Linked DNA regions of Homo sapiens: regions 1, 3 and 4 are each reported to be linked to region 2. The links are microRNA targets in miRTarBase. Many come from high-throughput screens and were not tested one by one. Region 2 holds a microRNA gene; each other region holds the end of a gene's coding sequence.

What was found. Region 2 holds the annotated microRNA hsa-miR-5694 (CAGAUCAUGGGACUGUCUCAG, at 2,697-2,717, shown strand). A microRNA usually pairs through its seed, bases 2 to 8, with sites in the 3' UTR of a target mRNA and lowers its output. Matches are read on the target gene's strand: a 7mer-m8 pairs with bases 2 to 8, a 7mer-A1 pairs with bases 2 to 7 and ends in A, and an 8mer does both.
Region 1: miRTarBase lists MORN4 as a target of hsa-miR-5694. Seed matches in the 3' UTR shown: 7mer-m8 at 984-990.
Region 3: the mRNA of ZNF607 is a reported target of hsa-miR-5694. The part of its 3' UTR that is shown has no 7-base or 8-base seed match.
Region 4: miRTarBase lists FBXO48 as a target of hsa-miR-5694. Seed matches in the 3' UTR shown: 7mer-m8 at 3,216-3,222 and 7mer-A1 at 3,374-3,380.

Annotation. Positions count from the first base shown.
Region 1 is chr10:97,609,665-97,616,664 of GRCh38, reverse strand. It overlaps MORN4 (MORN repeat containing 4), which reads left to right. Exons shown (of 5, transcript NM_178832.4): 5 at 254-2,110. The coding sequence ends at 402. HOGA1 (4-hydroxy-2-oxoglutarate aldolase 1) reads right to left here. Exons shown (of 7, transcript NM_138413.4): 7 at 3,863-5,155. The coding sequence ends at 5,006. Among named protein-coding and RNA genes, the nearest start is that of MORN4, 20 kb to the left of the region's middle. RefSeq lists an enhancer at 4,120-4,339.
Region 2 is chr14:67,437,459-67,444,618 of GRCh38, reverse strand. It overlaps MIR5694 (microRNA 5694), which reads left to right and starts at 2,689; the gene lies at 2,689-2,764. It also overlaps a transcript of GPHN not described here.
Region 3 is chr19:37,691,463-37,698,622 of GRCh38, forward strand. ZNF607 (zinc finger protein 607) reads right to left here. Exons shown (of 5, transcript NM_032689.5): 5 at 4,909-7,160. The coding sequence ends at 6,578. It also overlaps the pseudogene ZNF781 and the pseudogene SELENOKP1. Among named protein-coding and RNA genes, the nearest start is that of ZNF607, 25 kb to the right of the region's middle. RefSeq lists enhancers at 3,714-4,389, 5,066-5,740.
Region 4 is chr2:68,458,066-68,465,206 of GRCh38, reverse strand. FBXO48 (F-box protein 48) reads left to right here. Exons shown (of 4, transcript NM_001024680.3): 3 at 29-367; 4 at 837-5,785. The coding sequence starts at 62. The coding sequence ends at 998. Among named protein-coding and RNA genes, the nearest start is that of FBXO48, 5.7 kb to the left of the region's middle.

The DNA of each region.
Region 1 (7,000 bases), not on the chromosome of region 2:
CAGCAGGATGGCTGACTTAGGTGGGCATAATATGGGTGGAAATATACCTGTTTAGTTTTAATCCTGCGGGTGTCCAGCAATCCATAGTGGCCGTCCCTGACACCTATCCATTGAACTCATCAATAGAGTACTCCTGAGTAGAGCTGGGAGTTTTTCTCTTCTTTGGCCTGGACATATCAAGGCCAAAGATATGTCTCATCTTTGAGACATTAATGCCATTGTCACTCCCATATTTTCTCTGCCCTCCTCAAAGGCCTGCTGACTTTCCCTGATGGTTCTCATGGAATCCCCCGCAATGAAGGTCTCTTTGAGAACAACAAGCTGCTGCGACGTGAGAAGTGTTCTGCCATTGTTCAGCGGGCCCAGAGCGCCTCCAAGTCAGCCAGAAATCTCACTGCCTGACAGCGCAGTGGGCACCAGCTGATAAGTATTGGGTAAAGCCAGTGCCCCTGTTGTTGATTCGAGGTGAACAAATGAATCAGAGCTGAGATGAGTTGACAATGACAGTGGAGCAGAGGCCTTGTATGTGCCCTGTCACCTGCCATTCCAGAACTGGACCACAGAAAAGTGCTGAGGATGCTGGCCAGCAGACCCTGCAGCAGTCATTGGTGGTTCTGTCTTTCCCTAACCCTTATGTGCTGGAGGACAGAGGAGCCACCTCTTCTCACTGGTTGATACTCTGTTCCTAAGACCTCAGGTTACCCAGTGTAGCCTGCTGTGACCCTTCTGCTTCATTTTCTGCCAAGTGATACAGAACCTTCGTTCTGCTGCTTTGGGGACAGGTGATCCTAGCCCCAGCTTAGGGCCAGTGCTCTGTGCCACTCTGGAGAAATAGGGAAAAGATAGGGGTGGCTCAGTACAGCAGCCCTGTGAAAGTCAAGGCCAGAGCTTTTCTTTTTTAATTTTTTTATTATTATTATTATTATTTTATTTTTTATTTTTGAGATGGAGTTTTACTCTCGCCCAGGCTAGAGTGCAGTGGCATGATCTCAGCTCACTGCAACTTCTGCCTCCCAGGTTCAAGCAATTCCCCTGCCTCAGCTTCCTGAGTAGCTGGGACTACAGGAGCGCGCCACCACACCCAGCTAATTTTTGTATTTTTTTTTAGTAGAGACGGGGTTTCACCATATTGGCCAGGCTGGTCTCAAACTCCTGACCTCGTGATCCACCCGCCTTGGTCTCCCAAAGTGCTGGGATTACAGGCGTGAGCCACCACGCTCAGCCTTTAATTTTATTATTATAAAAAATTGAGCCAGGGTCTTGCTATGTGGCTCAGGCTCATCTCAAAATCCTGGGCTCAAGTGATCCTCCTGCCTGGGCCTGCCAAAGTGCTAGGATTGCAGGTGTGAGCCACTGTGCCTGGCTGGCAGAGCTTTTCCATATGTTACTCCTCATGCTGGTTGGAATCATGGCTGCAGGCTTCCACTTGGTCTGATCAGACTGGTATTCATTCCTGCCTATGTCCCCGTGAAGGATTCGGTAAGAGTGCTATTTCCTCCTCCCTTTAGAAGACAGGCTGTCTTCTTTCATCAACTTAGAGCAGATAATCCCCATGTGTGCCTCTCTCCTTCCTTAGATGGGGAACAGGATCCCTTTTTGGGACAATCAAGAAAAAAACTCATGTAAACAGTAATCTTATTACTTGTATTTGTGACTAACTCCAGGGAAAAGGGTAGAATATTTAGGCCACTTCAGGCACTACCATGGAGTGAACTGAATTCATACGGATGGCTTGGGCTGACACAGTTTCTTCCCAGTGGACCAATAAATCAGACTCACCCGAACCCCTGGGGTTTTGGTAGAATTGGACCTACTCTAGGACTGTGGGGAACTAAAGGAGCATTTGGCTCACTGTAGCTCTTCTATCATGAGCCTTGACCGTCAGGCCGCAATCAGACCTTACTGATGGGATCTCTGCAGTTTATTACGTAGGCCTCCCGTTACCCTGGTACCCAAATACGTCCCCCACCTCTAGCTCCCTAGCCTCACATTGAATGTCTCTTCAACAGCAGATTGTGGTGGAAGTTATAGCCGTGTGCCTCTATTTATTCTCTGAATTGTACTGTAGAAAAAGGTGTTTATAAAGAATAAAGAAATCACCAGAACTGCCTATACCTAGTTTTCCTGACTTTCTGGCCCTGCGTCTTCATGAATATCAACCCATTTGCTGTTTGTAAAAGTTAATCGGGTTAGCCCTTGGAACTGACCCTGCACACTTTATCAAGTCATCTAATTTTCTCAGCCTCTACAGAGGAGGACGTATGAACTTTTTTTTCTTATTTAAATCAGACAATCTCAGGCTGTCCCAACTAGTAGGTAGCACAGCTGGGTGAGATTTGTAACCGAGCCTTTCTGATTCCAGCTCCCTTTACTGGACCTCTCTCACCCTGAGCATCAGAGTACTTAAGTCCTGAGACTAGTTATGGCCACACCTGCTGGGTTACCTCTGGCAGGTCCACTCCTGCCGGAGTTTCCCTTTTTCTGCAACAGGAGAGTGGTGGAACATTGACCCCCACGCTAACCCTTTTACATGCACGTCCTTGTTGGAGGAAGGTACTATTATTATCCCTGTATTACAGATGAGGCTCAGGGAAGTTAAGCAGTTTCTCCAAGGTCCCATAGACACTAAGGGGCAGATCCCAGAACTTAAACCCAGACCTGTTTAAGCCCAGAGGCTGAGCTCTTACCCAGTGCACTACCCTGCCTGCCTAGCCCTAACTTTTCCCCCAAGTCCTAAACTTGATTCTCCTCTGAGCCTTGCTCCTCTGGAAGTTGCCTGTGAGAGGACCCCAGGCACTAAGCCCCAAGCTGTAGTGCCATTCAGAGCCTGGTTTTGGGTTGAAGATTGAGATCTTTTATTTTCTCTCCTTTAGCCTCTGCCCTAAACAAGTATCTATTTACCTCTCTTTTTAACCTTACACTTTCTTTTAAGGAGTAATTTTTTTACAATGTATCTCCATTTTTCTGCCACTAGTCAAATATTACCACTGAAAAAGGTTAAATATTTTGGAGAAAGCATCCTTTTTTGTTGTTGTTGTTGAGATGGAGTTTTGCTCTTGTGGCACAGGCTGGAGTGCCATGACACGATCTCGGCCCATTGCAACCTCCACCTCCCACGTTCAAGCGATTCTTGTGCCTCAGCCTCCTGAGTAGCTGGGATTACAGGCGTGTGCCACCACGCCCGGCTAATTTTTGTATTTTTAGTAGACATGGGGTTTGCCGTGTTGATCAGGCTGGTCTCAAACTCTTGACCTCATGTGATCCTCCTGCCTCCGCCTCCCAAAGTGCTGCCTGGCCCTAAACACTTAGCACTTTAATCAAAAAGGATGCTGAAGGGGTGCAGTGGCTCACGCCTATAATCCCAGCACTTTGGGAGGCCGAGGCAGGAAGATCACCTGAGGTCAGGAGTTCGAGACCAGCCTGACCAACATGGCGAAACGCTGTCTCTACTAAAAATACAAAAATTAGCCGGGCATGGTGGTGAACACCTGTAATTCCAGCTACTCGGGAGGGTGAGGCAGGGGAGTCACTTGAATCTGGGAGGCAGAGGTTGTAGTGAGCCGAGATCGTGCCACTGCACACCAGCCTGAATGACAGAGCAAGACTCTGTCTCAAAAAAATAAAATAAAAGTGCTAAGTGTTTGTTTCTAAATAGCTCACTTGCTCTCTTTTGCCTCTTACCCCTTCCCCAGGTCTCCAGTAAGTGAATGCCTGTTGGCTCAGTATTGCTGGGGACACTCTTCGAGCTGGGAGAAGGCAGACCATCAGAGCTCTTTTGCCTTTAGAAAGGTTCTTGACATCTGGCCAGGAAACCTAAGATCTGCATAGCAATAGAGTGTCCATCTTTATATAGCCACACTAATTTTTTCTGTTAAATTTTATTATAGTAACAAAGTGACTATTTTTAATAATAAAAGCAGAGTGCCTGTAGGCAAGTGGATGGCCCTATCTCAGGCCAAGTCTCCTTAGTGTTTCAGACCTAGGCTGACCAGAATAGTCTTCTAGAATGTAACATTTATCCACCAGGTGTCATTATTTACCAATCTGACAAGCCACTGGGCTGTCTCCGTGCATTCAATGGTTGGAATCAAGGCTACAGACCAGAATAGGAGATGAATGAAAATAGATTTAGAAAAGGGCGTTGTGGCTGGAATGCAGCTTGCAGTGTGGAGGGCAGGGATGGGAGGGTAAAGAGGGCTCTTTGAAAGACCAGTGTCACTTTCCTGATCAAGTTTCTTAAGCTGATACTTCCCTGGAAGGAGTCAGAACTTGGGTTTGTAGGAGTAGCCCTGGCCTCCAGCTGCATTGTGCTAGACTCAGGTTTGAAGCCCCAAATCTAAGTAGTCCCCCCTTTGATAAATTCCCGGCCGGGTGCAGTGGCTCACAGCTGTAATCCCAGCACTTTGGGAGGCCGAGGCAGTTGGATCACCTGAGGTCAGGAGTTCAAGACCAGCCTGGCCAACACGGTGAAACCCCATCTCTGCTAAAAATACAAAAATTAGCTGGGCGTGGTGGCAGGCGCCTGTAATCCCAGCTACTCGGGAGGCTGAGGCAGGAGAATCGCTTGAACCCAGGAGGCGAGATCATGCCATTGCACTCCAGCCTGGGTGACAGAGTGAAACTCTGTCTCAAAAAAAAAAAAAAAGAAAAGAAAATTCCCTTACTGTGCCTACTTGCCCCTCTGCCCTTCCTTTCTGACTTCATGTGCCTCAGGGCGTAGGAAAGCATCCACAGTAGAAAGATAAATTGAGAAATTGCTCCTTCCCAGTCTTCAGACCAGAGACACAGTTTAGGATCCAAAAGGGAGAGGTCAGGGGCCGTTAGAATAGGAGATATGCATGGGCGTGCCTGTGAAAGGCTGCCTGGAGGACCACAGCAGGCAAAGGAGCCTCTATCGGCTCCCCGCTGCCTGCCACCCTCATCCCCCTGTGCTCTCCGCTTCAGGCTGCAAGTGCAAGGCAGGAGGCTGAGATGGGCTCAGGCCAGCCATGGACCCTGCCTGCCCTCAGAGCCAGCCGTTGCTGGTGAAATCCATGCGCAGTGCCTCCTCCTCAGCGGGGCTCAGCTCCTGCAAGGGGGCGCGGCAGGGGCCTCCATAGTAGCCAAACCAGTCCATGATTTTCTTCAGCCCTGGGATCCCAAAGCGCCGGGTCACCTGCAAAGCAGGGCCTGTTAGAAGAGACTGAGAAATTTGCTGAACACCCATATCTGGAACTCGGAGATCTGTCACTTTCAGAACATTGAAGTCCTACCCTCTTCCCCCAGGAAAGTAACTGCCAACTCTATGGCACCCAGGGTACATTGGGAATCCAGATTTAGAGACCAGAGAGCAGGTCTGTAATAGCAAAATACAAAAACTTCAGATTGGGGAAGAAGAGTGCCTCCTTTGGTTTTAGGAGAAAAATCCACTCCAACAGAGAGGAGAGTGGTATTTGGTCCTCAAGCTGGGGTGGGAGAAGACAGCAAGGCTGCAGGTCTAGGCACTAGAGCATCAGCAGTCTGCAGCCCAGCTCCCTGAAACCTGACGCAGGTCACACCAGACCTGGGAAGTCAGGAAGGGGAAGGATCTGTGAGAGTCTCAGGCACAGCCCAGACCTCTACTCCCCTTGCATCTGGCTGCCCTCACCTCCCCATAGCTCCTCCTGACCCTAACACTAAATGGTCTCCCAGGAAAAGCAAAGCATCATTTCCCAAGGAAGTTTTGTTGTATAAACTGTATGTCATTTACTTATTATCTCTGAGTAAGTTCTCCTGTCTAAAAAAGGAAGGGGCTGGACAACATGATCTCTAAAGGCTTTTCCCTGATAATGGGGGACCTAAAGCTATTGTTATAATTTATTCATTTATTTTTATTTATTTATTTTTTTGAGACAGTCTTGCTCTGTCACCCAGGCTGGAGTGCAGTGTCCTGATCTCAGCTCATTGCAATCTCTGCCTCCTGGGTTCAAGTGATTCTCCTGCCTCAGCCTCCTGAGTAGCTGAGATTACAGGCACCTGCCACCACACCAAGCTCGTTTTATTTTATTTTATTTTTGTATTTTTAGTAGAGACAGGGCTTCGCCATGTTGGCCAGGCTGGTCTCAAACTCCTGACCTCAAGTGATCTGCCCGCCTCGGCCTCCCAAAGTGCTAGGATTACAGGCATGAGCCACTGCACCCGTAATAATTTATTTATTTTTATTTTATGTTTATGTTTTTGAGACAGGGTCTCACTGTGCCACTCAGGCTAGAGTGCAGTGGTATGATCATGGCTCACTGTAGCCTAGACCTCCTGGGCTCAATCGATTCTCCCACCTCAGCCTCCACAGCACCTTGGACTTCAGGTGCATGACAGCATGCCTGGCTAATTTTTGCATTTTTTGTAGAGACGAGGTCTTGCTATGTTGCTCAGGCTAGTCACAAACTCCTGAGCTCAAGTGATCTGCCCACCTTGGCCTCCCAAAGTCCTGGGATTACAGGCATGAGCCACGGCGCCTGGCCTATTATAATTTAAAATCGTGTATGGAATATTACAGAATAAATGAAGCATCAAATTTCCTTGCTTTTGGTATAGCAACTGGTTATTTCATGCTGATCAGAAATATTAGATGAATCTTTCACTACCTAAAAACTACAAAAGTAGTCCTTAAGAAAGTTTTATTTGGAGAGAAGCTAAAACCTTAGGAGGATAAAAATAAAAGGTTGTTTGGGATAAAAAGGCCAGGAACCACTGATGAAAGATTGACTAATAACTTTACCACTAGAGTCCCGGAGGCTTTATCAAGCATGGATTTTTTTTCTCGGAATGGGTGGTAAGCCACCCTCCTGCAGGCCTCGCCACCCCCATGATGTTCTAATAGCCTGGCCTTTTTACCCAAAGCCTGAGTAGGTGGGAAAGACCCAGGATACAGGATGGAAATAAGAGGTGCCCAGAGAAAAGCTCACTCCTGCCATGGGTTTCCAAAGATATCTGATGTGGCCCCTCTTCAAACCCTAAGAAGGGGTTGGTGGCAAAGACTGTA
Region 2 (7,160 bases):
TACCTCATTAGCATAAACTCAGGTGTGTAAGGAAGGGCCTTATTATGAATAACAAAAGACATTCCTATCACTCAGGAAATTCCAAGGGTCTTATGAGCTCTGAGTCAGAAGTCAAGAACAAAGTCCCAACATATATTTTTCCTCTATCATACTATATGGTTCCTAAATTGGCTGGGATGATTATAGCTCAGAGGCTGAAAAACATGCTCTGAATGCATACTTCATCACACTTACCAGAAAGGGGCCACTCTCCTCCACTGAAAAGCAAGAATGCTCCTTTCTGTGAACTCCAAAAATCTGAGCAGGTCTCAGTTAATTTAGAAAGTTTATTTTGCCAATAAACCTTAGCAAAAAGTTGAGGATGCATGCCCATGACACAGCCTCAGGAGGTCCTGACAACATATGCTCAAGGTGGTCGGGGCACAGCTTGGTTTTATACATTTTAGGGAGACATAAGACATCAATACATATGTGTAAGATGTACATTATTTCAGTCCGGAAAGCTGGGACAACTCAAGATGAAGGGGAAGTGGGGAGTGGGCTTCCAGATCATAGGTGGATAAGAGACAAATGGTTGCATTGTTTTGAGTTTCTGATTAGCCTCTCCAAAGAAGGCAATCAGATATACACTTATCTCAGTGAGCAGAGGGGTGACTCTGAATAGAATGGGAGGGGGATTTGCCCTGAGCAGTTCCCAGCTTGACTTTTCCCTTTAGCTTAGTGATTTAGGGGCCCCAAGATTTATTTTCCTTTCACATTTCTCTGTACCTGTTTCCTCATCCCATCCAGGACGAGAGGCTTAACTGGGGACATGCCATTCCTGCATCTATTTTTTTCTTTTTATTTTTTAGAGATGTTATCTCACTATGTTGCCCAGGCTGGAGTGCAGTGGCTATTCACAGGCATGATCATAGCCTTGAACCCCTGGCCTCCAGAAATCCTCCCATCTCAGCCTCCTGAGTACCTGGGACTGGAGGTGTGCACCACTGTGTCTGGTACCTACATTTTTATTTCTCTTTTCTTTCTTTCTTTTTTTTTTTCCTAAATGTCTATCCTATGCCTGTCCCTCCACTGTACTTTGGAATGCATCCCTCCTTCTGACTGTACAGGACTACCTGTCATTCCCAGAACACTGGCCCTCCTACCCTTTGTGCCTTGCCATCGGCTTGAAATGCCTTCTTTCCTTTCTTTTCCTGTCAAAATTGCAGGTGATTAAAAAGGTTGTGGGGCAAACATACTTTGTGGTAGTGGTAGGTGTTCTGCAACATGGCACTCTTAATTTACACTTGTTTCTACTTCTTAGCTGGAAGAAAAGTCTTATGCAGTCATAAAACAAATAGATTTGTAATTTGGGGGTCACAATGTACAGAACTCATTTTTTTTTTCTTTCTTTCTTTTGAGACAGAGTCTGGCTCTGTTGCCCAGGCTGGAGTGCAGTGGCGCAGTCATAGCTCAGTGTATCCTCTGCCTCCTGGGCTCAAGCAATCCTCCCACCTCAGCCTCCCAAGTAGCTGGGACTACAGGCATGTGCCACCATGCCTGGATCATTTCTGTATTTTTTGCAGAGACAGGGTTTTACCATTGTTGCCCAGACTGGTCTTGAGCCCTTGGGCTCAAGCAATCCTCCTGCCTCAGCCTCCCAAACTGCTGGGATTACAGGGATGAGCCACCTCACCCAGCCCAGAACTCATTTAATATAACGTCGTTGGCTTTATTACATTTCTGACATTCCTCACACACAACAAAATCTTCCCTTTGGGAGGCTGGAAGGATACACCTGCCTGTTTTCCCTAAGGTCACATGTTCGTCCTTCCACACCCTTCACAGGGTATCCAGGCAGAATTAAGCTGTGTCTTCCCACAGCACTTGTACTCAGCTCTGACTGCTTGTTTACAAGGCTGTTTGCCTCTGAAGGCTGCAGGTGTCCTGTTGTTTACCTTTGCTGTCCCTGAACAGTATCTGACACGTCATGTATGCTCACTGAATGCTTGGTCCTGGTCTACAGGAGAGAGAGGTCAACCTAATTAGACAAGAACCAGGACAGGACACAGAGGAAAACTGGTTGTGGAGGCAGGGACGAGTGCTCCTTGGTAGTCACCTTCTTTGGAAGGAGAAGCTGTTCCTTATCTTAGGCCTGCTTCTCGTTCACTCTGCCTTCTGGACCGCTAGGTAGAAGTACACACACACACAATTTTTCTATTAATAGATAAAACTCAAGACAATAGCTCCAAAAATAACCTCTTCTTCAAGGTCAGTGGAAGGCAGTAGAAACACCATTCTGGCCAACCCACTGAACCAACGGGTGCACGTAGGCTCCCAGGTGCAAGGAAGCAATGTGTACCCCTTGGTTCAGTGGGTTGACCTCCTAACCCTCAAGGATGGGGTGCTGCAGAGTGTCAGCAGGGCCACATCATGGCTTTCATGGCGCTTAGGCACTTATGCCTCTGTGGGCCCATTCTTCCATAAAAATATATTAAAAATTATATTTTGTGACTACATTGGCATAAAGACAAATTGAATCCAAACTTGATTCATTTGTATGTATTCATTACTATTATAGTCATCTTCTTCTAATTTTAAAAGAAATTAAAATTAAAACATTTTCGTGGTCCCCTAAAAGTAGAGGGCCTATATTAGTCTGGAATTTCCAGAGAGACAGAACCAATAGGAAGGAGATAGATATTTATAGCCAACTGCAGATCATGGGACTGTCTCAGCCCCATATGTATCTGAAGGCTGAGAAGTCCCATGATCCGCACTTGGCAAGCTGGAGACTCAGGAGAGCCAGTGCTGTGAGTTCCAGTCCGAGAACGAAGGCAGGAGAAGGCTGACGTCCCGCTCAAAGGACAGTCAGGTAGAGAGAGCCTGATTTTTCCCTTACTCCACTTTTTCGGTTCTATTCAGGCCTCACCTCCAACAGATTGGATGAGGCCCGCCCACCATGGAGAGGGCAGTCTGCTTCACTCAGTCTATTGATTCAAATAGTAATCCCAGCCAGAAACACCCTCACGGGATACCCCAAATAATGTTGAGCCAAGCACCTGGGAGGTCAAGTTGACACATAAAATTAACCACCACAGGGCCCTGTGTCTACTGAGCCCATTGGAGAAGTCGGCCTGAGTTTGAGGGAGTAGCTGACATAGGGTCCTTTTCTTGGAGTTCCCCTTTGTAAGTGACTGCCCACACAGTGGTTCACTGGGCTCACTGCAAAAGGTCTTGAGCTTGGAGACCAGTGCCTGGTGCATTAAGGAAGACTGCCAGGGCCTTGGAGGACTGAATTTACCTCTGCTGTCTGTCACAAATCATCTTCATTCCTGACCAAATGTCTCTGGCCTATGCTGAGCCCCCAGGAAATGACATTTGCCTCACAGGACCTGGAGGATCAGAGCATCCTCTAAGCCAGAGAAGCACGAACTTGGACCCCAAGTTGGTTAGCTTGATCTACAGCAGCAGCCACAGCTGGGAAATCTCTTTTCAGTTGAATTTTTCTTTTAAAAACGTTCATCTAAATGTTGCATTCTACTCCATAGTATATTCATATTTCTCCCCAAAAGATTTAAGGAAAAGTTGATGCTCCGTTTTTATCCCATGGCTTGACTATTCCTGGAATATTGGCCCTCTGATTGGAGAAAAGTGGGCTTAGAGACAAGCCGAGCTCTGAGGCCCTTTGTCAGGGATTAATGACACTACAAGAGTTAGGATCAATATTTAGCCTTCTTTCCCTGCCTTCTCTTGCTCCTGCCCATTTGCCAGATGGAGGAAGTAGGCCTTAGGGAAGGGAGCCCATTTGCTCAGTGTGTCAAGGCTGGAGGTGAAATAGAATCAGGGCAGCATCAGGGCAAACTGGGAGTGTCTCTTTTTTTTTTTCACTCTGAGACAGGAAAAACCACTTTGTCGCCCAGGCAGTGGCACGATCTCAGCTCACTGCAACCTTTGGCTCCCAGGTTTAAGTGATTCTCGTGCCTCAGCCACCCAAGTAGCTGAGACTACAGACATGCACAACCATGCCCAGCTGATTTTTGTATTTTCAGTAGAGATGGGTTTTCACCCTGTTGGCCAGGCTGGTCTCAAACTCCTGGCTTCAAGTGATCTGGCCACCTCGGGTGCCGGGATTACAGGTGTGAGCCACGCGCCCAGTCCGGAGTGGCTTTTATGCCCTGGCCATGATCCAGCAGTGGATCAAGGTGAGTGGGGCAGAAATTTTTTTTTCGGTGGGGGAGACAGTAATTTTACAGCTAACAGTTTCAGTGTAAATCCTGACCACCTGTATATTCGAGCCATAGACCACAGTCTGCAGACCTAAGGCACATTTCATGTAACTTTACATCCGTATCAAGGAGGTTCGATCTTTGGGAAAATAAATATTTACCCAGCTTCAAAGAAGTCAGACTTCCTGCCATTTATTTTTAGTTCTTTGGGTATGTGCAGATCATCACCAACACAATAAAGAAAATGCAGATGCTTCTCATAATTACCCAGCTAAGGCTGGGAGTGGTAACTCACGCCTGTAATCCCAGCACTTTGGGAGGCTGAGGCAGGTGGATCACTTGAGGCCAGGAGTTCAAGACCAGCCTGGCCAACATGGTGAAACCCTGTCTCTACCAAAAATACGAAAATTAGCTGGGGCTGGCACACACCTGTGGTCCCAGCTACTCAGGAGGCTGAGGTAGGAGGATAGGTTGAGCCTAGGAAGTTGAGGCTGCAGCAAGCCGAGATCACGCCACTGCACCCCAGCCTGGGTGGACAGAGTGAGACGCTGTTTCAAAACAAAAGAAAAGAAAAAAGAAAAGAGAGAAGAGAAGAGAAGAAAGGACATTTTAACACTAAAAGCATAAAGAACAAAACCTCAAAATCTCAAAATGGAACAAATTTGGATTTAAGAAAAATCTACTGCATTGTGTATGTTGTTTTTCTATATTGCGCTAAACTGGAGAAAACATCACTGTAGACAGGTACTGCTCTGAGGTCTGGAGTTTAGAAACTATTGAAACTTTTGTGAGTAATTCTGATGCAAAAAAGAAAGAAGAAAGAAAGAAAGAAAGAAAGAAAGAAAGAAAGAAAGAAAGAAAGAAAGAAAGAAAGAAACTATTGAATTTCATGGAACTCTTAGGTCCATTTTCAAGCTCTAATATGCTAGGATGAATCTTTCAACCTTGCACCTTTTCCCCAAATTGTCAGTCTGTAAATTGTCATTAGCCCAGTGCTTATCCATTCTTCCCTCCTTCTGCAGCTGAGAGAAGAGAAGTGTCTACTGCACTAAAGAAAATCTTCCTTCTAGAGGACACATACTGATGAAAACCTACAACTACTACAAGAGGAAAATGAGCCCATTCCTGATACTATTCTAAACACCTTACATATTTAGCAATTAAAAAGCTAGCTCACTGAAGCTTCACAACAACCTATGAGCTAGGCACAAGCATTATCCCCATTTCACAGACGGGGACACTGAGGCACAGAGACAAAATAATGAAGTCACAAAACAATATCCAGTGTGCTTTGGACTTTCCTAGCTCTGCAGAGGCCAGCCTGAAGTCTGTGTGTGTGCTGGCTTGTGACATGTAGACTAAGGCTCATGGTCCCACATCCTATCATTTCCCACTTGCTTTAGGAACTGATGCCTGTTGCCTGTGCCCTCATGGATGGATGGTCTCCTTATATGTGCAAGAACAGTAGCACTAGCTGCCGTGTATCTTGACCCTCTGGGTGTGAGAATCCAAAACTTCATAATCTAGCTTTTTTTTTTTTTTTTTTTTTTGAGACGGAGTCTCACTCTGTTGCCTAGGCTAGAGTGCAGTGGCACCATCTCAGCTCACTGTAACCTCCGCTCCCTGGGTTCAAGCAATTCTCCTGCCTCAGCCTCCCGAGTAGCTGAGATTACAGGTGTATGCTACCACGCCTGGCTACTTTTTTAATTTTTAGTAGAGATGGGGTTTCGCCATGTTGGCCAGACTGGTCTCGAACTCCTGACTTCAAGTGATCCACCCACCTCGACCTCCCAAAGTGCTGGGATTACAGGCGTGAGCCACCGCACCCAGCCATAATCTTGCTTTATACTCACCAGAGTCCTCTAGGAAGGGGGTTATTATTCCTGTTTCACAGGTGATATAACTGTAGTTTAGAGAGGTGACCTGCCCAAGGTCACATAGCTGGCTAGGATTTGAACTGAGATCTTCCTGACTCCAAAGCTCCTACCTCTAACCCCATAAAGAAAGGAAGGATTGTGTCCCATTTTGCAGTCAGAAATCTACAATTCTCAGAGAAGGGAACTGAGAAGCCCACACCAGCTGGGAGCTGAAACCAGCATCAGGCTCAAATCTCCCTGCTTGCCAGGTTCCTGGTCCAGCCCCTGATCACCCCACCTTCTAGACACTGACCCAAGCCAGGGCACTGGAAAAGACATTTTGAGAAAAGGAGGGAGGCTCAGGGGAGATTAGGGATGAGACAAAACATCTTGGGGCCAGAGCATACTGTCCTGGGAGCTTTGCCAACATGGCTTGAAGGACCTTGGGGAGATGATTGGGAGGGGGGTGACAGCTGGGGAGCACGGACACTAGACTGGGAGCCCTTTGTCCCAGGAGCAGACCGCCCCAAATACCAAACTGGCTCCTTGGTACTATCTCTCAGCCCTCTTGACTCAGTGGGCTCAACCACAGTTTAACCACATATAAAAATGAGGTCTAATAGGCTGATAGGAAAGGCACATAAATAATGACTTTCTTGACTTTGGAATCAGGACAAGCCTAAAGACCAGCAAAACCTCCTCCCAACCCCCCTTCTTTGTCCACCTGCCTCCCACCAGTCTCCTCCACCGTGGTAAATGGTACCACCCGTCTTTGGGTTGCTCAAGCTAGAAATCTGGGATTCAGGCCTGTTTCCTCTTCCTCACTCCAGCCCATCAGTAAGTCCTCTAGGTACAACCTCCCAAATACATCTCATTTCCTCCCACCTCTCTCTCCCCCCTCCTCCAGCAAGTCCCAGCCAGCATCCTCTTCCCCCTGGATGCTAGAGAGGCTCCTGTCTGCTCTCCTTCCTCCCACGGCTGCCCGCACAGCCTATTCTCAGACGTACAGCCGCCGTGAGGTTTGGACATTGAAATCAGACCGTGTCACTTGCTTAGAGCCCTCCAATCACTTCCCATTAGACTCAGACAAAAATGG
Region 3 (7,160 bases), not on the chromosome of region 2:
TCCAGGACTTCTCTGAACGAAGGTTTGCTTTTCAGAAAGTGGAGTTATAGCGCCTTACCTGGAATCTTGAACCCCAAATTATGATCTCTCCACGGTAGTCAACGGAGCTTCATAAATTATTCCTTAATCCGAGGCTTCTCAAATCTGTTGTGTTCCCTAAACAACAGAATAAATGCCTACTCTGAGGGTCTGACACAAAAGCAGGAGTCCCACAAAATAAGTTCCTTTAAAATATTTCTTCTTGTATTTAAAAGTCACACTGATTTGGTATTCTATACAATAATAAATTTATCTTTTACACAGAAATCCTGTTTTATAGTATTTATCAGATCAATTATTTAGCCTTTTCCAAATTTTCGAGTAAACTGACGTCCTGGAAGAAGCACCCTTATTTTCACCATTTTACAGTCGAAGAAGGGAAGATAAGAGGCGGTGAATCCGAGACTTTCATTCAGGTGACGATCCCTCGCGGGCACTCACTCTCGCTCACACTACAATCAGATCCTCCATGCGGCTTTCATATACTCTGTCACACTCGCAGCCAGAATCCCCTCGGATGGACTCTTGCAAACCTCCAGCCCCATCCCGGGATCCGTGCGTCTTCTACAGCCACCACTTGGGCCAGCGTCCAGGACGCCCAAGCGTAACCTCCCCACTCTAAACCGTTAGGAATCAGTGGCTGGACTCACCGCGTCATAAAAGCATAAACTGTGACCCGATGAGTCCGCGCACTCGGAAAACAAGAGAACGCTCCCACGTCTCCGGGCGCAGCTTGTGCCAGCGACTACTAGGTCAGGGGGCGCAGCTGAGAGAATTCAAGCAACCTCCCCGCAACCGGTTCCGCCGCGTTTGTGGGCTGGTAGCCCGGAATACATTTCCCAGAGGCCTTCGCGGCCGACGTGCTTCGCGCAGGAACGCAGCCGCCTCCCGACTGGAGGACGCGGTAGCGGAGCTGCTCAAAGCGAGGTGCTCAGCCCTGGGAGGCTCAGGGCTGCCCGAGGGGCTTAGTCCCAGAGCCAGTGCTGTCAGGGGCTGAGCATGTGAATAGGGCAGTCGGAAGACCATGTGTGTCTGTGGCTTTTAAATACACCCCGAACGTCTATCTCTTTTAACTGGAGTATTTAATTTATTTACATTTAATATAGCCACTGATAGATTTAAAGCTGCCATTTTATTATATTTTCTTTTTTTTTTTTAGTGCTAAATACACAGGCTTTTATTTTCTTCATATTCAATCTTTTTGTGAATTTAAAGATGAGGAGGCCGGGGGCAATGGCTCACGCCTGTAATCCTAGCACTTTGGGAGGCCGAGGCAGGCGGATTGCCCGAGCTCAGGAGTTCGAGACCAGCCTGGGCAACATGGTGAAACCCCGTCTTTACTAAAATACAAAAAATTAGCTGGGCATGGCGGCGTGCGCCTGTAGTCCCAGCTACTCGGGAGGCTGAGGCAGGAGAATCGCTTGAACCCGGGAGGCGGAGGTTGTGGTGAGCCGAGATCGCACCACTGCACTCGCCGGGGCGACAGAGTGAGACTCTGTCTCAAAACCACAACAACAACAACAACAACAAAAACTATATTAATACTTTAATACCCTAAAGATAATGAGACAAACGTGCATTTGTGGAACTGCATGTCAATCAGGCCAGTTCCCTGCAGAGGGAACTCCCAGCATGACCTCAGTCATCTGTGAGGACACAGAGCAGTCCTTGTTTAGACACACACTTTCATCTACTGCTGCAGCATGGTCAGCACTCCACTTCTTGATGGTTTCCTTCTGCTATGAATATGCATGTCCAGTTGCTTCTTAGAGCAGACACCTTCCTCATCCACCAGCCATTGGAGGAGGACTGGGGCCACCCAGATGATTGATTGGACCCATTCTTCCAGGAGGGTTTCCCGGTGGCCCTCTTCCATCGTCATCGTATCTGAAATCAGATGAGTTTCCATAGCTTCTTCTTTTTTTCAAATCTTGCCGAAGCAGAGTTTTGAAAAACAAAACCACAAACTCAGCTATTCCCCAGAAGAAATCTGTTATCAAAGATAATCTCCATGGAGACTGACTCCAGTTGTCCAACACTTGTGCGTTTGAGATGTAAACCATCTTGCCCCCATTCCCTGCTTCGGAGCCTTATTTATTACTTTTTAAAAACAGGGTCTCCCTATGTTGCCCAGGCTGGCCTTGAACTCCTGGGTTCAAACGATCCTCCCGCCTCTGCCTCCCAAAGTGCTGGGATTACAGGCATTAGCTCCTGGCATTTTAATTTGTTTTCTTTTTGTTGCATGTTTCCTTTTTCTCTCCTTTCTTTATGTTGGATTGATGTATTACTATTCCAATTTTCTCTTTAATAGTTTGTAGGTTCTTTAAGTCATTACTCCAGGAATTTTAATAAGTCCAAATTTATCAATACTCTGACTCTCCTCTCACAGAATGCATTCAATTTCATATGCCCTCTTAAATTTAAAATACAAGATATCAGTTACATATTCGTTTTGTTTAAAAAAACCTCTCTAGGCTGGGCGTGGTGGCTCACGTCTGTAATCTCAGTACTTTGGGAGGCCGAGGTGGGCCGATCACAAGGTCAGGAGATCAAGACAATCCTGGCCAACATGGTGAAACTAAAATACAAAAATTAGCTGGGTGTGGTGGCGCGTGCCTCCACACCCAGCTAATACCAGTAGAATACCAGCTACACAGGAGGCTGAGGCAGGAGAATTGCTTGAACCAGGGAGTCAGAGGTTGTGGTGAGCTGAGATTGTGCCACTGCGTTCCAGCCTGGTGACAGAGCGAGACTCCGTCTCAACAAACAAACAAAAATCTCTCTGATGTTATACTATTATTTTGTCAGTATTCATTTACATTTACTCAGAACATTAACATAAATATAAGTGGTGTTCAAATAAACAGAATGTTTAGGTTTTGTCAAAGAGAAATACAGTGGGGCTGGGCGCAGTGGCTCATGCCTGTAATCCAGTGCTTTGGGAGGTTAAGGCAGCTGGATTGCTTGAGGCCAAAAGTTTAAGAGCAGCCTGGGCAAAATAGTGAGACCCCATGCCTACAAATTTTTTTTTTTTTAATTAGCTGGGCCTGGTGGTCTACACCCATAATCCCAGCTACTCTGGAGGCTGAGGCCAGAGGATCACTTGAGCCCAAGAGCTATGGATGGCATGACTACACTGCAGCCTAGGCCACAGACCTAGACCCTGTCTTAAGAAACAAAAAGGCCAGATGCAGTGGCTAACACCTGTAATCCCAGCACTTTGGGAGGCCAAGGTGGGCAGATCGCCTGAGGTCAGCAGTTCAAGACCAGACTAGCCAACATGGTGAAACCCCGTGTCTACTAAAAATACAAAAATTAGCCAGGCGTGGTGGTGTGCACCTGTAATCCCAGCTACTCAGGAGGCTAAGGCAGGAGAATGGCTTGAACCTGGGAGGCGGAGGTTGCAATGAGCCGAGATTGCACCATTGCACTCCACCCTGGGTGACAAGAGCGAGACTCCGTCTCAAAGAAAAGAAAAGAGTCCAAGCGTGGTGGCGTACGCCTGTAATCACAGCACTTTGGGAGGCCGAGGTGGGTGGATTGCCTGAGGTTATGAGTTCAAGCCTGGCCAACATAGTGAAAGCCCATCTCTACTAAAAATATAAAAATTAGCGGGGTGTGGTGGCACATGCCTGTAATCCCAGCTACTTGGGAGGCTGAGGCAGGAGCATCACTTGAACCCAGGAGGCAGAGGTTGCAGTGAGCCGAGATCATGGCCACTGTACTCCAGCCTGGGCCACAGAGCCAGACTGCATCTCAAAAAAACAAAAACAAAAAAAAAAAAAGAAAAGAAAAAGAAACAAAGTGAGACAATAGTAAAAGGCAGTAAAGACAGATTTTATTCAGTAATAACTACTGCATTAGGGAACAGAATCCAGTGTGAACTGAGCTCCACTTTGGGAAACAAAAATCAGGAGTTGTTGAAAATGTTGGGGTGTACTAAAGAAGACACTGAAAGGTGTTACGGGGGAGTTTGGTCCATATGACTAAGGCATCAGGTTTTTTTTTTTTTTTTTTTTTAACTAATTGGTATTTATCCAGAGTAGAAACAAACTTCTTGTATCTTTACGACTGAGGTAGTTGTGAAAGTTGGAGCAAGACAGCCACCAAAGTTAGGCCCTTACACTCCCACAGCAACTGAGAGGCTGGAGCAAGAGCTGGCTCTCTGAATGTTTGCATTTCAAACTCAGCTGAGGAGACAGCTCTTGGTGGTAGATTTGCATCTCAAAGGGGCAGAGAAATGGTTTATAATTGCAAGCTTTCTAAAGTAACTGCTTTAAGAGGGGGCTTAAGGACCTATCACTATTTACAGGTTTTGGCTGGAACAGTATGTTTTCAGAACAGCATTGAGCTTTCTCAGGCAGGTTTTTTTTTTTTTGAGATGGAGTCTTGCTCTGTCACCCAGGCTGGAGTGCAGTGGTGTGATCTCCGCGCACCGCAATTGCCACCTCCCGGGTTCAAACAATTCTCCTGCCTCAGCCTCCCGAGTAGCTGGGATTACAGGCGCCTGCCACCACGCCCAGTTAATTTTTGCATTTTTAGTAGAGACGGGGTTTCACCATGTTGGCCAGTCTGGTCTTGAACTCCTGACCTCCAGTGATCCACCCACTTTGGCCTCCCAAAGTGTTGGGATTACAGGCGTGAGCCACACTGCCCAGCTTACATCTGAATTTCATTCCAGGATTAAGTGTCTGATTCACCTAAACAGATCGGAATGAAAGCCCTCTTATGGTTTTTACTTATTATCTGTTTACCCAGAATGAATTCAAATTTAAAAAGCATAAAACTTTTTTGAATTCATTAAACTTGAATGGTTAATGGTTTTCATTTCGTCAAAATGCACTAAAAATAACACAAGTAATGATATTATTATATACAGAAGCTAATGTTTATTGAACGTAACAGTATATTTCATGTAGTTTCCCATAATTTTTTCATGTACTAACTCATGTAATTCTTTGTTTTTTAGAGATCTGAAGTGATTTTACCTTTACTTCCTTCACTTTAAGCCAATCATGAAATTTCAGTGATTTCTGGGGTGAGGGCGAAAGGTGGTGTTACGAATCATCGGGGCTGTGGCCCAGTTGCCTCACGGAGGTGCAGGTAGGCTGGGGCCTCACTAGGGCAGCTGGAGGAGCACGGACTGCCCTGCCGGCAGGCAGGTGATGTTCCGAGAGCATGAGAGCTGGTATGCAATGTCTTCTGCAGCTTCCAGCTTGCACAGCTCGCTCTGGCCGTCCCCTGCAGTGGCCAGTGAGTTGGCGATCAGCTCAGCTGCCTTGGAGTCACCCTCAGCAGAGATGATGGCCGCCTTTTCCACCACAAATCTGGCGCTCTCTGCTTCCTGGGGGGCCACCTGTCTGTTAACTCCTTCAAGAAGGTCAGATGTGTCAAAGACACGTCGTCCAGAATGAGCCCAAAGGTGGCTGCTCACTCCATAAGGTTGTTGCTCACCTGGCTGGAGACCAGCTCCCTCTGGGTGATTAGTTCTCCAGCATCAAAGCGAGCCACCAGTGACTTGAGGATCTCCGTGGTAATGAACGGCAGCACACACTCATCGTAGTCCTCTCCAATGCTGGTGAAGATGCGAGGAAGCTGGCTAGTGATGGGCCGGAAGAGGATGCACAGTGTGATGTTGACATTCTGTAAATCTTTGCTACCAGTGATGACTGGCGCACTACGTGGTTGAGAACAGCAGTCAAAGATAATTGGTTTTTGTACACATGGGATGAGAAAGTGAGTCCCTTCCCCTACCACAATGTTCTGTACTCCACGGAATTGGTCAAAGATGGCAGCTCTGTGCCCAGCATCCACATTACATAAGGCAGAGTTCACCATGCCTCCTGCAACAGCTAAGGCCAGGCCAAACTTGCCGATGGACTCAAACACTTTGGCAGCCATGTTTTCTTCTGCGGGACCCTCTCACACCTGCTTCCACTCTGACCTCCACATCTAACTCATGTAATTCTAACAGCACTATACTGTAGGTACTACTATCATCATTTATATATGATCCCCAGAAGGGATAAATATCTTCCCCCATATCATCCCAGCTATAGGAAGCAGATGTTGATCATGAGCATTAAATATGCAGAGTGGCTAAATAGCCTTTCCCATCATCGCTTATATCAACAGAGGTTTCCTGTGTAATGGCTTTTTCCAGGTTTAACAATAAATGATTGTTGCTGGAAGATGTTTACATGCAAGTATAAAGAATGGTTTCCTACGTTTTCTCAGTTTTCCTCTACTGTGAATATTTTGGCAATCCAAAACTAGAGGAATATCAGAAAAGTTTTCTTATGTTATTAAAAAAATACATTATAAATTCTCTGAATCTGAGTTAACACAGGTCATACCAAAGAAACTGCATATATGATTTACATTTTGAAAAGTTCACACCAATACAAATTGATGCCTAATAAAAACTGAACTGTATCTCAAAGCCATTCCACATTGTCTTCATTCAAATTGTTCAGTGGGATAAATCCATTGACACAATGTGCTTTCTTTACTACCTGTATATGCCACAATTTCTCTATCAAATATGAATTCTCTGATGTACTTCAAGGATGGATCTAAGCCTAAAGGACCTTCTGCATTTGTTACATTTAAAGGGTTTCTCACCAGTATGAACTCTATGATGTATACTAAGTTCATGGCTACTATTAAAAGCTTTCCCACACTCTTCACACATATAGGGATTTCCATCAGCATGAACGCTTTCATGTCTAACAAGATATGAGGCACAGTGAAATGCCTTCCCACATCTTTTACATTCATAGGGTTTATCACTGGTATGAATTCTCTCATGAATAATAAGATGTGAAGCATGACTAAAAGTTTCCCCACATTCTTTACATTCATAGGACTTTTCACCAGCATGAGTTCGGTCATGATATATGAGGCTTGTGGCATGACGAAAGGCCTTGCCACATTCCTTACATTCGTAGGGTTTCTCAGCGCTATGAATATTCTGATGGGCTTTAAGTACAGAAATGAACCTAAAAGACTTCCCGCATTTGTTGCATTCAAAGGGTTTCTTACCACTGTGAATACTCAGATGCTGAGTAAGTTGTCCAGATACACTAAAGGCCTTCCCACATTCCTTACATTCATAAGGT
Region 4 (7,141 bases), not on the chromosome of region 2:
CTGAGCATGTTTAAATTTTGCCTTTTAGGTTACATATGAGGATAACTTAAAACATTAAGCTATGCATAAAAACTCCAAGAGAAACAATAATTTAAGAGTTTCTCACACAGAAGCGAACTCTGTGGATGCTGAGAAGGAAAAAAATGAGAGTCAAAACAACTTTTTTGAACTGCTGCCTGCAGAAATCACTTTTAAAATTTTCAGTCAGCTGGACATTCGGAGTCTGTGCAGGGCTTCATTGACATGCAGGAGCTGGAATGACACAATAAGAAACAGTGACTCTTTATGGAAACCTCACTGCATGACTGTAAGAGCTGTGTGCCGAAGAGAAATAGATGATGATCTAGAAAGTGGTTATTCCTGGAGGGTAAGTTTAATCTTTGCGATCTGCAGTGTTGTTGACAGCGTTATGATAGCAGGTTTGCGCCAATTCTAACTTCTGCTTGGAGGAGTCAGAATTACATATGCAGAATAACACAGACAGTGTGTTGACTCTTGGAAATGAGTTAAAGTTATTAGTCTTTTCCTGCTAACCACACTGTTTCCACACTATCTTTCATTTATCCTTTTGCATTTTTAAAATTCTAAATTCGGGAATTTTCCTGCGTTAACCAGAAGGGAATTAGCTCCTTCTTTCCACTTCACCTTATGCCACTCAGTATAAATACACATATACATACACACACGTACACAGACACATACATTTATTAATGTACGTATATATAAATGTAAATACTCTTTTTTTCAGCCCTGTCAATCTGCTTCTCTTGCTTTAAACACATTCACTAACCAACCACCTACTACAGTCTTTTTTAACGGTGATTTACCTCTTTCAGGTGATACTGCTGAGGAATTACCAGAAGAGTAAAGTGAAACACGAATGGCTAAGTGGCAGATACAGCAACATTTGTTCTCCCATTAGCCTACCAGAAAAAATCATGTACCCAATGGATGCAGATACATGGGGGGAAATTCTAGAAGCAGAACTGGAAAGATAAGGGGAAAAAAAATCACAAATCTCAGGTCTTTGAAAGTTTAAAACTTAAATGACTCTTAGGTTGCAAAAGCGATATCTTTATTCGTTCATTTTGTTGTTCACCTTTTTAAAAGAAAATGAAATGGAACTATTATAAAAGTAAAGCTTTATTTTTGTTTTGCACTTTAGTAAAATTTTTCTGGTTTTATTGTAATGTGGAAAAATCATGAAATGTTATTTTTATAAGAAATAATATACTGATAGAGTGATTTCCAAATACAATGTTTCATGTATTTGTGTTAATATATTTGCAATACTAAATGTAAGAGTGATTTGTATGTTCAGCTTAATGATAATTCAAAATTTCAGGAAGCCACTTTAAACTGACTTAAAGATTCATTAAGTGGTGGTTATAACTAGGCTCATGGGAAGACTAGCTAAGTGAAATTAATAGCAATACATTTAAATTAATACATTGACATTTTAATGACTTTAACATTTCTATTTCAGTGGAATCAGATTGAAATGTCAAATAGTGAAACTATTTTTAATGTGTTAAGCCTGTGGTTTAGTTTTAAGTTAATGTCATCTCAGGGCTAAAGTTTGTCCAATTGAGATTCCCATTAATTTTATATAAACCTGGAACGGCTCTCAGGAGCTGAAAGTAAGTGGAAAGTTTCCAGAACACTTTACCATCAGAATGCCACACTAGCCTGGTAAAACTCTCTTTCTGACAGCCTTATAGCACCATCTAGTGTGCTATTCTTAGATAGCAAGACAAAGGACTTTCAGCTCCTTTTTGTTTTCTCCATATTAAAAAGAAAACTGTTATTCTAAAGAATCCTTAACACTTGTCTTTGTTAAAGTTTATAACTTTTTAGGAACCTTTATTTTAACTTTTAAAAACTTTTGTTTCTCTTTTTTCATAAAAACAGATTATATGCTACTCACTATAACAAATTGTTTATTCTGAATCTGTGGTTACCACCATAGTAAAAAAGTGTCTACAAACTGCTTTAGTTAGTGTGGGGTTTTCTTCTTAAAAACTGTTCTCTATAGCATTAAATATAAGAATCCAGGAAACCAATATTTAACAAATAGGCAAATATTAGAAAGATGCCCCACTATATGCAAATTCTGTATGTTGAATCAAGCAGTAGATAATTAATTGTCTCCTACTATCTTCTTAGAGTTGGAAGAGTCCTTGAAAATCAGGCAGTCAAGTGTCCAGGACTATTCAGTAATTTTCTCAATAGGAACACTGTCAGTCAGCCAGCCCAAGCTGAAATCCTGTACTTCTACTAATAGCATCTCTGTTATGTCACAGAACAGTCCAGTTGTAGTCTAGGCTTGCACTGAAGACCACCTCTCTGTAACGTTTGCCTTCTAGCCCCACTTCCACCCTCTAGAACCAGGCTGATTCAGTCCTTCCTGTCTATGATTGCCAGATATTTGAAGACTGATAGCCTGTCTCTTCCTATGTCTTCTCTCCAATTCCACTGATGATCATAGAGTATAATTTCTAGACCCAACAACATTCTCTTCTGCCCATTTACTCTTAACAAAAGAAAGGGGCTGTGCGCCATGGCTCACGCCTGTAATCCCAGCACTTTGGGAGACCAAGGTGGGTGGATCACCTCAGGTCAGAAGTTCAAGACCAGCCTGGTCAACATGGTGAAACCCTGTCTCTACTAAATATACAAAAATTAGCCGGGCGTGGTGGCAGGTGCCTGTAATCCCAGCTACTTGGGAGGCTGAGGCAGGAGAATCGCTTAAACCTGGCAGGCAGAGGTTGCAGTGAGCAGAGATCACGCCACTGCGCTCCAGCCTGGGCAACAAGAGTGAAACTTCGTCTCAAAAAAAAAGGAAGAAAGAAAGGTATCCTACTAATTTTATTTCATAAAAGATAAGAAAGCACTTGGAAATTTTCAAAGTATGGGAAAAATTAAAGCTATAAGCATTTTGCTGAATAGCATCTGTGTACAATAGTAAATGTACACATATATTTTTAGCTGTTTTTTTGTAATGGATGTTTATTATTTTTGTCCAGCCCCCTTACAATCTATCATCATCATCTGTTAATAGAAGTTATCCTAATTAGGGAGACTCACCCTTCTCACTTCCAACCAAGTGTGTGGTTTTTTTTGGCCGGGGTGGGGGGCAGTTTTTTGTTTTTGTTTTTTTGTTTTGTTTTTTGAGATGAAGTCTCACTCTGTCACCCAGGCTGGAGTGCAGTGGCATGATCTTGGCCCACTGCAACCTCCACCTCCCAGGTTCAAGCAACTCTCTGTGTCAGCCTCCCGAGCAGCCAGGATTATAGGCGCCCGCCACCATGCCCAGCTAATTTTTGTATTTTTAGTAGAAACGGGGTTTCACCATCTTGGCCTCCTGACCTTGTGATCTACCTGCCTCAGCCTCCTAAAGTGCTGGGATTATAGGCATGAGCCACCGCACCCAGCTGGGTTTTTTGTTTTCTTGTTTTTTTTTTTTTACATTATCCTGTTTTTCCCAGCCTCCGTGTTTAGTCCAAGGATGGAAACATGACCCAATCCCCCCTTTTCATAAGTTGGAAGAAAGAAGCCCTTTCCTCTTTGCTGATGAAACTGTTCCCTGCCACACAAAGAAAACGGATCTTGGCCGGGCGCGGTGGCTCACGCCTGTAATCCCAGCACTTTGGGAGGCCGAGGCGGGTGGATCATGAGGTCAGGAGATCGAGACCATCCTGGCTAACAAGGTGAAACCCCGTCTCTACTAAAAATACAAAAAATTAGCCGGGCGCGGTGGCGGGCGCCTGTAGTCCCAGCTACTCGGGAGGCTGAGGCAGGAGAATGGCGTGAACCCGGGAGGCGGAGCTTGCAGTGAGCCGAGATTGCGCCACTGCAGTCCGCAGTCCGGCCTGGGCGACAGAGCGAGACTCCGTCTCAAAAAAAAAAAAAAAAAAAAGAAAACGAAAACGGATCTTAAGTAAGAGAATGTGGAGCCACCAGGGGAAAGAACAATTGCAGGGAAAGAGGCCTGATTATATTCCAGACCCTGGTCCCAGCCATTCCTTATCTGCTTACCTAAATTAATTCAAATTGAGTTTCACCATCATACTGGGACCCCCACCTGATGTGGTTTCGTTGCCCATTTTTCAAATATGTATTATTTGTGGCTTACATTAACATCTTAGATTTCACTCTGACTTCCTCACCAGTCAGTCTTAATCTGCTATAATATGGCCATCACTCCATATGGTTGAAACTGTTGGTATCCAAATTACAAGTGACTTAATGTCTAAATCCACTGGATGCATTCTACTTGTTAATATATTTGACACACATAAACACTCACACTGACACACATAAGTACTTCTTAAAACTCTCTCCTCCATGGGTTGGAACTATAGTCTCTTGGACTTTTCTTTCCCTACTCTAACCCGTCTTCTCAGTTTCCTCCAAAGACTCGCTTTCCTTCACCTACTCATTACATGTTAGTGTTCCCCCAAAGTTCCACCTGTTGTCATCTCGTCTCTATACTCTAACATCCTTGGTGATCCCATCTACAACTCCTATGTCAGCTACCATTGTTGGTGCTAATGCCGTCTATGTCCGTGTCCCAACATCAGATCTCCATGAGATGTTCCAGAAATACATATGCTATTATCTTTTGGATTTTTATCCAAAGATAGTATAAGTATATATATATATATATAAAATATTTGATATATCCAAAGATAGTTTATATATAAGCACCTGAATCAAAACTTACCATCTCATAAAAGTAGTTCTTCCTCCAGTTCCTATCTCAGTGAATGGCATGTCCTGTTAGAAAATCACCATATTTTACTTTTCTCCATCATTCTCCAAGTCCAGCCGAGTCAATTCTTACTTGATTTTATCATCCAAATATCTAAGTAATTCACCTCTTCCCCATCTTTATCTCTGCCTCATTACTTAATTCTTGTCCTTATTTGACATTGGGATTTCTAAAATAACCTCTTACTGGTGTTCCTGCCTCCAGTTCCTTCCTTTTACTGTTAGCAGTGTAGTCTTTGTTAAACCCCAAATTTAGCACGTCACCCTAACTTAAACTCCTGACTGCATACAGGTAGAAATCAAAATTCCCCACTAAAGCCCATAGGGCCTTTAATGATGTGGTCTGGCCTACCTCTCCAGCCTGTTCTCTAACCACTGTCCCACCCTATATCTTTCTGTTCAGTCTTACAAAACTATTTCATAAAAATTTTCTCACTTCTCTGCCTTTGCACAGGCTGTTTGATATACCTGGAGTAATCCCCACCATTGATTCTTTTCTTGGCAAAAATCTATTGTAAAACTTATCATCTTGGCCTGGAAACAATCCATAACTTCTACTGTTCTGGATTAAGTGACTTTTTAGATGTTCTTGTAGTTCTTTGTATAGACCTCTCTCAAAACTGTCATATGACATTAAATTGTCTATTTTATTTGTGTGTTTGCCCCTTTACACTGTGAACTTCTTAATGGCAGGGACCATTTTTTATTTATTTTTGTGTCTTCAAAACCTGGCACACACTAGATGCTCTATAAAGATTTGTTAAATTATTTCTATAGTTATTTATTTTAATCCTACACAGAATGTATAAAAATAATTTACTATATTGTTAGTGAAGAAGATTGTATCAAAATGCAGTATACAATCCTTAAGGTATGTGGGATGCTTGATAGTAATACAAATGTATGAATAATTGTTCCAGTCTTCTCCAAACCTGTAAGAGGGAAATAGGAAAATAAAAATGTTTTGTTTTATTGTTTTGAACTCTTGAAAATAAACTTAACCTCAAAAATATCACTTATTATTTTGAATTATTGAATTACTTCCATCAGTTTTAAGTATTAGCTTTGCAAATTATGTGAATGAACATTAACTTCGATTTTTTTAGTGCTATTGCACTAAAATAACTAACAAATTATGTGCTATGATCAAGGTCTACACTGAAAGGAAACCTTTGGAACTTAGTGATAAATTTATGGTATGGGCTTAGAATGAACCATGCATTTATCAGGCCAAGCCATTAGCATCTGAAAACATGAGTGGGTGGAGCAGCATGGAAGGAAGGAATGTTCTTACTCATAGATAAAATAACATGTTAAGTGTGCACCCTGTGTACAAGAAGCAAGATTCTTGGGGAAGAGTATTAAGGAATTTTGAGTGTTTTAAATCAGTTTAAGATCTAGTATTTAGAAAAATAAATTTAGAAACCTTTTTTTTTTAGCTTCTTCTGGTTTATAACCCAATCTTAGACCAGAACATAATCATCAGTAAAATCTCTGTGAATATAAACTTTCGACCTGAGGCTACTTGCATATGTACAAACCTAATTTTAAAACTATGGCTGGGTGCGATGGCTCACACCTGTAATCCTAACACTTTGGGAGGCTGAGGCCGACAGATTGCTTTAGCTCAGGAGTTCGAGACCAGCCTGGGCAACATAGTGAGACCTTGTCTGTACTAAAAATTTTAAAAATCAGCCAGGTGTGGTGGCGCATACCTGTAGTCCAAGCTACTCAGGAGGCTAAGGTATGAGAATTGCTCGAGCTTGGGAGACTGAGGCTGCAGTGAGTTGTGATCGCACCACTGCACTCCAGCCTGGGTGACAGAGTGAGGCCCTGTGTCAAAAGAAAAGAAAAATGTAATATACCCCTGACCACTTTAACTTCATCTTTGCTTTGACTTTATATCATGTCTTCTCTCCAAGACTTCAAATGCCCTAGTAATATTAATGAAAGTAAGATGAGTAGCAACTTAAGGAAATGGGTTGGGAAGAATACATAAGATGGAAGATCACACATTTTTATTTAGAGTTTAAGACCAAAAACATCAAATTGATGAAATCAGATCAACAATGGACGAAGCTGATTAATTATAACAGCTGACATTAATTGAATGCCTTCTTGTACCAAGCATTGTTCTTACACGATGTATGCTTACTCTATATCCATTTTATGGATGAGGAAACTGAAAGAGAATGATGTTTTCCATCTATTTAATCACCACTTCCCAGCACTTACAAGAATGTGTCATACATAGTAGGTACTCAATAAATGTTTATCAAATGACTTCAGAAACTTAGAATGAATAACTTAGATGAAAGAGCCAAGAATGTCCCTCCAAGTTTTTCACTGGAAAAATTTCAAACCCACA